2 separate regions of the Homo sapiens genome follow, and region 2 is reported to be linked to region 1. The links are microRNA targets in miRTarBase. Many come from high-throughput screens and were not tested one by one. Region 1 holds a microRNA gene; the other region holds the end of a gene's coding sequence.
What was found. The annotated mature microRNA hsa-miR-6814-5p reads UCCCAAGGGUGAGAUGCUGCCA and lies in region 1 at 2,321-2,342, opposite strand. An mRNA with a match to its seed (bases 2 to 7 or 8) in the 3' UTR can be bound and repressed. Matches are read on the target gene's strand: a 7mer-m8 pairs with bases 2 to 8, a 7mer-A1 pairs with bases 2 to 7 and ends in A, and an 8mer does both.

Region 2: the mRNA of TRPM3 is a reported target of hsa-miR-6814-5p. The part of its 3' UTR that is shown has no 7-base or 8-base seed match.

What each region holds. Positions count from the first base shown.
Region 1 is chr21:41,744,495-41,749,138 of GRCh38, forward strand. MIR6814 (microRNA 6814) reads right to left here and starts at 2,347; the gene lies at 2,278-2,347. RIPK4 (receptor interacting serine/threonine kinase 4) reads right to left here. Exons shown (of 8, transcript NM_020639.3): 5 at 2,119-2,277; 6 at 1,265-1,368.
Region 2 is chr9:70,531,987-70,536,305 of GRCh38, forward strand. It overlaps TRPM3 (transient receptor potential cation channel subfamily M member 3), which reads right to left. Exons shown (of 26, transcript NM_001366145.2): 26 at 1-4,319. The coding sequence ends at 3,967. All of the region lies in intron 3 of KLF9-DT (KLF9 divergent transcript), which reads left to right. Among named protein-coding and RNA genes, the nearest start is that of KLF9, 120 kb to the left of the region's middle.

The DNA.
Region 1 (4,644 bases):
CCCCACCCAGCACGGAGACATCTTAAGGAAAGATAGCCTTCATAAAAGTGCAAAATCCAGCCTCATGCAGCTCTGGATACCATCTGCTCAGTAACACTGCACAGAGCGTCACCCAGACAAAAGGCAGGCGGTGTCAAGCTGCAGAATGTGAGGCATGTATGGCGGGACACAGCTGCCCAGCACAGGCCAGCGTTGGCAGGAAACGAGAGGACAGACAGGAACTGGGCAGGACCCCCACACGTGGCCACAACTGCGACCTCCCCGCGGAGCCACGTGGGGCTGGCCTGGGGGCTGTGTGGGGACGAGGGAAAGGGGAAGGACCCGGCTACAGGGACGAGGGGTGATCCAATCCGACATACACCGATGGGGCCTTTTAAAGAGTCTCGCTTCATGGACTGCAGGGGCAGCAGGTTTCTGGTGGGTAAGTGGAATCTGACGGGATTTCACGCTTCTTCCCTTAGGCACACCTGTTTGCCCCAACTCCCCACCCTTTGTGGGACGGCTCGAGGTCCCGCACTGTTGCTGGGTGTACCGAGCCACCCCTACATGTTGGTTGCCTTCTTTCCCTTATCAGGGCCCAGGTCTGCCTCTGTACTAGCAACCCCCGGGCACCTTTGCTCCCGGGCTCACTGGCACACATGCACTTTATGTTGAGGCAGTGGGCGCATATTCCTGATATACATATTTCCTGATCTCCTGAGCTCACACCAACAGCCTGGGATTAATCGCCCAACACCAGATAACACGTTATAAAGCTCACTTATCAGCTGGGCCTCACAGGTCTGCTCCAGCCTCATCACCCGAAAAGGCATTTAGCCAGCCCTGCTACTTGGAGCTTCTTATCACATCTGAAATCACCTGGGTGGCACTCATCAGAGTGCAGACCATTTATGGGCAGCTATAAAGGAACTGGATCCCCGAGCCAGGGGTGCAAAGACACTCAGACACCAGCTCTCCCTCCCCGGCCGGGGCTGGGCCTTCTGATCCCCGTGGTCCACACACATCCAATGAGTGGCTATTTAGTGTCAGGGAAGCCCTTCCGCCACTCACGCAGAATCAGACAGGAGGTGGGGCGGGGATGCAGTCGGGCAGGTGGACCTGAGCCCCCATGGGACCTACACTTCTAATGGAGTTGGGTGCGGGATGGGCTCAGAAGAGAGGGAGAGTGGTCCGGGCGGCGGGGGACTCTGCAAAGAGGAGTGGTTTGGAAACTCCTGCCTGGAAGCCGAGGAGACAAAAGACCCCTGTGGGAAGGACTCGTTACCTCGCTCCTGGGCTCCGGGGGGCTTTTCACGTCCAGATCATGAGCAGTTTCTTTCACTTCGTCATCAGGCTTTTCACACAGGTCCTCGGTTTCAGAAGTAATTTCTTGTGGGGAAGAAAGGGGACATGTCACTCGGATGATGACTTCTGCGTACACACGCGTTCCATATAAACGCAGGGCCCCCACGAGCTGGGGGATTTCTCACACGCCTCGGCCCAGCCTGAGCTCACCAGGCAAGCCCAGGGGCCCTACATGGACAATTTGCTGGCCAAACCCAGGCCCCCCCATCGGTAATCATTTGAAGGCCTCACCAGACTCAAGGCGGAAGCCTTCCCCGGGGGAGCGCCACCTGCCAGTCACAGGGAGCAGAGCTGCCAGCACCTGGCGGATGAGCTCCCCATTCAGCCCGTTTCCTGCCGTAAGCTTTAAATGCAGCAGTTTCCATCTCATCAGGGTGACTTTCCTATGCCAGAGACACATCTGTCCCAGGAAGTCAACTCCTCAAGAGAAGGGCGACGCCGCCGGCCACCGGCCAGGTAAGTCCCCGGGAAGAGCATGGCTGCACCTGAACTTCAGGCTCCCATACAGACTCCTCTGGGTGGCAAGCCCAACCCTGGTGGGGAGCAGGGGGCGGATGGTTGGAGGCAACTCAGTTCCAGCTGCCGTGGCCGAGCCGTGAGTACCAGAGGCCGCAGGCAGGTGCTGGGTCCAACCTATCTGTGCAGGGCTCATTTCGGCCCACCTGTTACACGCCTTGTTTCTCACCCAGGCCTGGTCCCTCACCCTGTCCTGTCTGTCACCTCTGTCTCCTGTGACACCCACAGAATGTGGCGGGGAGACCCCGGGGTGCTCACCTTGGAAGGTGGGCCTAACTCGCGGATCCCCCTGCCAGCACCGCTGCATGAGGCGTATCAGGTGGCTGCAGGCGCGCGGCCGGGCTCTGCACACGGGCGGCAGCTCGGGGCGGTGGCCCTTCACCACCTTCACCATGATGTGCAGGATGTTCTTCTCATCTGCCAAGGGAAGGATGCGAGTCAGGGGCTCTGCAGGGCTGGGTGGCAGCATCTCACCCTTGGGAGGAAACGACACACTCGCCGGGGGCCACAATGGGGCCATCCCCACACCACCCCAGGGAGACGGCTCCCCCACTCCGTTTCAAAGGCAGAGCTTCCTGTAACCCTCACCCTCATGGTGCGCCATGCTCTCTAGTTTCCTGGTTTTGAAATCGACCTCTTTCCCTGGGTTCTGATCTACCAGAAGGAGTCAGTGTGTTTGGTCACAGAGCAGATCTTTCTAGGCATCCCATCCAAAGGAAGATGAGGTTCAAAGGAGAACAATATCTTATGAGGCTCATTCCATCAACAGCCCAAGCCAGCAAAGGGAATGAGGCTCACGCACCATGGAGGAGCCACAGCGTCCTACATCCACAGAGACCCAACTCTCTCTACAATGGCGAAGAAGTCTTCCTCAGTTCCAACTCCAATCCCAAGCTCAGGTCCCCAGCTGGCCTCCCCTGCCGGTGCACCAGGGCTGGGATGTGTGGAAGGGCTCTTTCCCCTCAATTCACCATGTGGGGCCGCACCTGTCCTTTCCAACTGCCTTCACTAGCATGCATGGGCTCTAGCTTATTATTATTATTGCCACAACTTCTACCCTGACTGGGAAGGGCCCAGGGTGACATCCAGTGGGCCAAGTTCTTTTTTCTGCTTAGCCTGGAACCCTCAAGGTTCTTGTTCCCAACAGCCCTCTCTGCCCTCCAGATCCAAACACACCCACGCATGGAATGGCAGCTCTTTGGAGAGGCCATGTGCCTCAGCAGGTGTGGAAAATCAGCCGAGAATCACCCACGGCTGCCAGGATTCCATACAATGTTTTGCTCCACTTTCCCATTAAATCTTGTGCAATAAATATCGTTAAGTGTTTAGCAGGCTATTTCCATGATTATTCAGACTTCAAAACCAACAGCTCCTCTAAATAAAATGGAAGCAAACTGAAGTAAACGCCCGGAATGTTTCCTGCTGCCAAGCACAGACTGGAAAAGCTGGGGAGAGGCCTTGTTCTCCTGCACCTTGAACCCCCTCCTACCCATTTTTGCCTGAGGTTGCAATTTTTTGAATTTGAAAAATCAGACCTTGGCGATGACCTTGAACAGTAGGACACGAATAATTCCCATATGATTAGCGTTCCAATAAGGGAACACTAGGCATATTCAGCAATAAAGCACAAGGGCTTGAGCCTTGACCTGTCCCCTGCGCCTAGCTTCGGGTGTCACATCTATCAGACACTGCCTCATTTCACAAGCCTTCGGGCTGTAGGCCACTGTGCGGGAGAACGTACAGAAGGCAAGAAAGGCGACAGGCGGTCAGACAACACAGACGGACACCGGCCAGCAGAGGCCTGGCAGGACGCGTTCTGTGCTTTCTACTGACATTCTTTTAAAGCTGCCAAGATACTTGATCTTGCGATGCTGGAAGATCTCTTCTCACCCCAGCACTTTCCCATACATCGGCTCCTAGTCTGAGCCCCGACTAACAAGGGGCTAGGCCTTGACTCTCATCTTCATTTTTAGACATTTTCGGTCACACCACAAAATATCATGAGTAGCCCAGAAATGTCTTTAGAGGAAAAGGGAATCTGTCCAACAAAGCTAAAAAGTCCTGGATTTTTATGATAAGTAAGTCAAGGTGTGACAACTTTGAGGATGGTGTTCGGAATGGTGGCTGCCTGGCTGGGGAAGCAAACACCACAGCTCTCAAGCTGGGCAGGGGTGCCACTCCTGCAAGCAACTCCATGGCACTGAGCAGCTCTGGAGGTTGGCTGCGCAAGCACGCGGGTACATGTAATGCTCCTGAACTGTATGCTTCACACGGCTGACATGCTAAGTTTTGTTCTGTGTATTTTATGACTATTTTTTTAAAAAGTAAACAAAAAAGAATTAGCTGGAAATACCAGCACAGGCAAACCCCTGGAGACAGAAAGCAGGTGAGTGGTTGCTGGGGCTTGAGCAGGAGGAAGGGCGAGGGACTGCAGAATGGCCATGGGCTTTGCCTTCTAGCATGATGAGAATGTTCTGGAATTAGACAGTGGTAACGCTTGTTCAACACTGCCAGTGTAGTTAATGTCACTGAATTATACACTTTAAATGGCTAACATGACCAATTTTATGTTATATATATTTTACTACCACAAAAAAACTAGCTGGCACCTAAAAACATTCCATTGAACAGGCCCCTTCAGATCTGTGTCTTTTCCTGCATGCAAATTACACCACAGAGCAGCACCTATGGCAGCGTGGATCACAGGCTCTGTTTTAGGATAGAGAAAGGACAACAAGGTGTCCCCCCATTATTCCAGGAAAGACAAGCACATTACACCTCAAA
Region 2 (4,319 bases), not on the chromosome of region 1:
TTACAGATTTATAAATGATTATAAAGCTCTCCTGTAACGTTCATTAATACAACCACATGCTACAACTACGCTGGGTTAAACATGGGTTACATACATGTTTACATGTGTTTTATAATACAGCATTGCCCAACATATGAATGGTATAGCCTATAGATAGAGCATGATGGATGACCGGGTAATATTTATCATCTTTAAAGAAATTAAACAGCCCAAACATTCAGGAAGATTAGACTGTACAGACTCAGAAAGTAAAAAAGTACTATCCAGTTATCTACCATAATATTATCTATAGAAACCATATTTTAGAATACATTTGAAACATTCAGAAGAAACACATTTTGTGTTTTTATGAGTACATTTTTCTCGTTTGATTATTCTTATATATATATTTTAAAAGGGGAACTTTCAAAGTGCTAAATAATATCCTAGACCTGGAAACTTATACATTTAAAAAATCCAGTTCTGTAAAGTGCTGTATTCTGACTGCTAATACACCTTTTGGCTTGCAGAGATAATACAAACTAGTCATGAAAATTGTACCCAAGCTTTCCAGCTCCTCATTCAAATCTATCAAGGAGGGGCCCTCTAACTATAAATATAAAGTATATTGGTTAAGCAGGAGACCTCCATGGTCATTTTCATAAAACATCCTTAAATTTTTTTCAAAAGGAACAAGCAATTTAGAACAAATCATTACATATAGTAGTATGTAAAAATTGGCACCTTTGAAGCAGATGATTAAACCGAAGCTATTACTTCCTTGAGCTCTCTATGACTTTATTTACGGTCCTCAGTAACTTGCTGCTCATAAACTGCTTAATTCACAAAGACAGGTAATTAACGTCCCCTCGATCAGGGATGTGGTGGAATCAATGGGCTGAGCATAAGCTGACTGCACAAGGCCACAGAATCAATGCCACATTGCTGCACAGAGAACCCAGAAATGGAAGGAAATGGACTGAAAAATAACACACATACATGTGCACAGGAAGGAAATGGCTCATGGAAGTTACACAGTTTGTGTCTACAGTCATTTAAGTTTGGCTTATATATTTCACACGTTTCACAGACGTTAGAACTTAATTTTCATGCACAACAAAAGAATCAGGTAATTGCAAGATCAGGACTGTTGAGTATTTCGTTTCCCAGTTCCTATCCTTTTCTCTCTGAAATCACGATGAATGGAAACACTTGAGCTGAAAATTTCTTTCCCTCACTTCCAATCTGGCCCAGAATGAGGCCTTGGAGGTGTTTGATGTCAATGAATAATGTTTTCACCTCCTTCTTGGATTCCTCTATAGACCCTTCAGGGAGACTTCAGCATTGTGATTGTGCTTGATACTTAAAATCATCAACATGTTAGGATGTAAGTGCATTAAATTGGCAACATCTAATTTAAAGAACAAAAATAACAAAATCTTTGTTCAAACTCTGGTGCTGAGATTTGGCCTTCCTGAGAATCACAGAGAGATGGTCTCAAATGTAAAGTGCCTATTACAACTGCATTAACTACGAGCAAACATGGTTCCTTTCCCTCATAATCAATATAGAACCAGGGGCTCATGAACCCTTTCAAGTTATATTGCAACTTTGCATTATGTACATTTTTTTTTTCTTTCTGGAGAGAGAGCCTAGAGTTATCGTAGAGCCTCGTAGGGATTCATGACTCAAGGAAGTTTAAGAACGACTGATTTATTCTCAGACCCAGTGCATGTTTGCTGAGAGGGAAATAGCCAGCGTGGGGCCCAATAAAATGTTAAGTGTTTCTAGAACAGCTGTAAATAAGGGAGTCTGGGTGTTTGTTAGCAATTCACCTAAATGCCAAGGAGTGAAAAAGGAATTGTTTAATTCTTTACATATGTGACCTCATCACAATTTTTATACCTGAAATGCTTATTCAGAAGAGTTTTTATTTTGTTTTTTATCTTATATTTAAAGGCCATGTATTTACTTGATTTCACAAAATAAAGTAAAACTTGGTGTTTTCAATTATAATTAAACAAAAGAACCAGGTAGTATCTCAGGCCAGGAACAATAGATTGTTTTCCTTAAAGGCTTTATTCTTTTTTAAACGTTAATGAGCCAAATAGGAATCCAAAGATTTGGGGTCAAGATTTCTTTATCCCACTTCCAATCCAGATTCTGATCTAGAAGATTATGCCTCTACTTTAGAGTCTGTAACACTAGCTGGTTTAAAGTTGCGTGTCTATTCAGATTGTACGTGGTGTAAAAACTTTGTTTAGGAAAAGCGAGACTAAATGAGATGTCCTGATAGTGAGTGATTTCAGACAAAAAAGGGCAGAAGGCGAGCAGTGAGTCATTTTGACAACTCTAGTTTGATATGAGGAAAAGTCATAGGAATTTAAAAAATTCATAATTTCAACATTTGGTCTAATAGTATAATGAACTCTTTCAATGGAACTTCTTGTATATTAAAAAAAATCTTGATTATACTTCAAGGTGATAGAAAAGTCCAAGCCTCTTAAGAAAGCTCTTTATGTCCATTTATTTTATATATAAATATGTGTCTCTGCATAAATGCATATACATGTGTATAAGTGGCATATACTATAGAACTCTTTATATGGTTTATTTGCTTTCTATTTTGGTCTACTGTATCTTTTTTTATAGCTCTGTCTATAAGAAAAATATTCATGGTATGCTTGCAACTGATGGCTTTGGGTTGATACCAAACTCCCAGTCAAATCTAAGGTTATTTATAGTTTTGAAACTTCCTTAAAAAGTACTTTGGAACATTTCCATAGAAAAGATACCAGCCCTTGAAAAACTCCAATTAAATTTATGCTGAGCTCAGATTAGATGGCAAAACTCTAGGTATGAAAATATCCACATATAACCATATATTCATATACAAAATGGTCATGTGATGAGTGGTGTGAAAAATTGGCAGTTACGTCTTGGAGGTGTTCAGGAGGACGTGGTGGAGCCATGCAAATGATGACGGTCACACAGCAGCACAACACACGACATGAACGGTGAGAACAGAACATCCCACATGGCAATTTCAGGCTAGTTCTGTCCACTGTTTTTTTTTTTTTTTTTTTAAGTTCAATATTACATATTCAGTGAATGAATTCATCCATGACAGGTGAGATACAAAATAAATTAAAAAATATAAAATTATTTAATTACATTCTCCTGAGCTTGCTCGACTAGACTTGAACGCCCACTGTATATAATAAATCACTTGACTTTTGTTTTTTTAACATCAACTCTTCTTTCATTTCGATTGCAATACAAAAAGGCATTTCTGTTCCCTTATTTTCTTCAAAAAAGGATAAACAGTTGTGGCACCAGAAGTGAATAGATAAGAGACAGGTGAACTATGACTGTTACCTTGTTTTTTCTTTATAATGATCAATTACAGAAGTGTTGGCATGAGAAGGATGTGGGACGTTAGGTAGAACTGCTTGCTGCCGGCTTATACTGAATAAAGAGGATGCTCTTCATCAGTCACCAGTGATGGAGCCAATGTGAAAAGAAAACAGAATGGAAGTTTAGAATATCTCATTGTGTACGCTGGCTATTTTATTTTATTTTGCAATTTAGCCCTGCATCCTACAACTCTTGATAATGGTCAGAAATCAACAGATGCCTCCTGGCATGGAGCGTGCTCGAAGCCCCTTGTTTCCCCTGCTCTCATGGCTTTCTGCTGTGACTGCGGATACACATTCATCTCTAACCCTTCCTTCTCCCTCTCTTCCCCCTCCCTGCCCAGCAAGTGTGAACATGCCTTAAATCCCCTGTGTCTGGCACTGGGTCAGATCAAATGCTTTCTTGATCTGTGGCCCAGAAGTCACCTTTGAGTTAACACCTCCCAAAGCATTGCTTGTTTTGCTCAGCTAAGAATAAAGCAGGTATGATTCAAGGAAAGGGGAAAAACTGGAGTTGGAGAGAATTTTAGGGCTGGATTCTTGAGCCTTCTGTGGCGGATATTAAGAAGGTTTAGTTGTGCTTGCTTTCAAAGCTTTGGAAAGCCGATGTTCTGGACAGTCTCCTCATGGACAGGCTGTCCCCTCGGCCCTCCGGCTTGGAGGACTTGCTTCTCTGGAAGGGATTTCGCAGGCTTGCTGTGTTCCGCTGCCTGTCGAGTTTGTCACTGATGGAGAAGCTCTTCCTGGTGTGTGCATATGGCGCACTTGGCTCCTCTGCCGAGTAGCTGTTGGCGCGCTCTATCTTGGGAACAGTGATGTTGTTGGACAGGGTTCTCTCTGAGTTATCACCCTCCTGGGAGGATATTGCAATGGTGGCTCTGCGGCCTTTGGCCTCATTCTCCTCACTGTCAGAGCTGGGGTGAC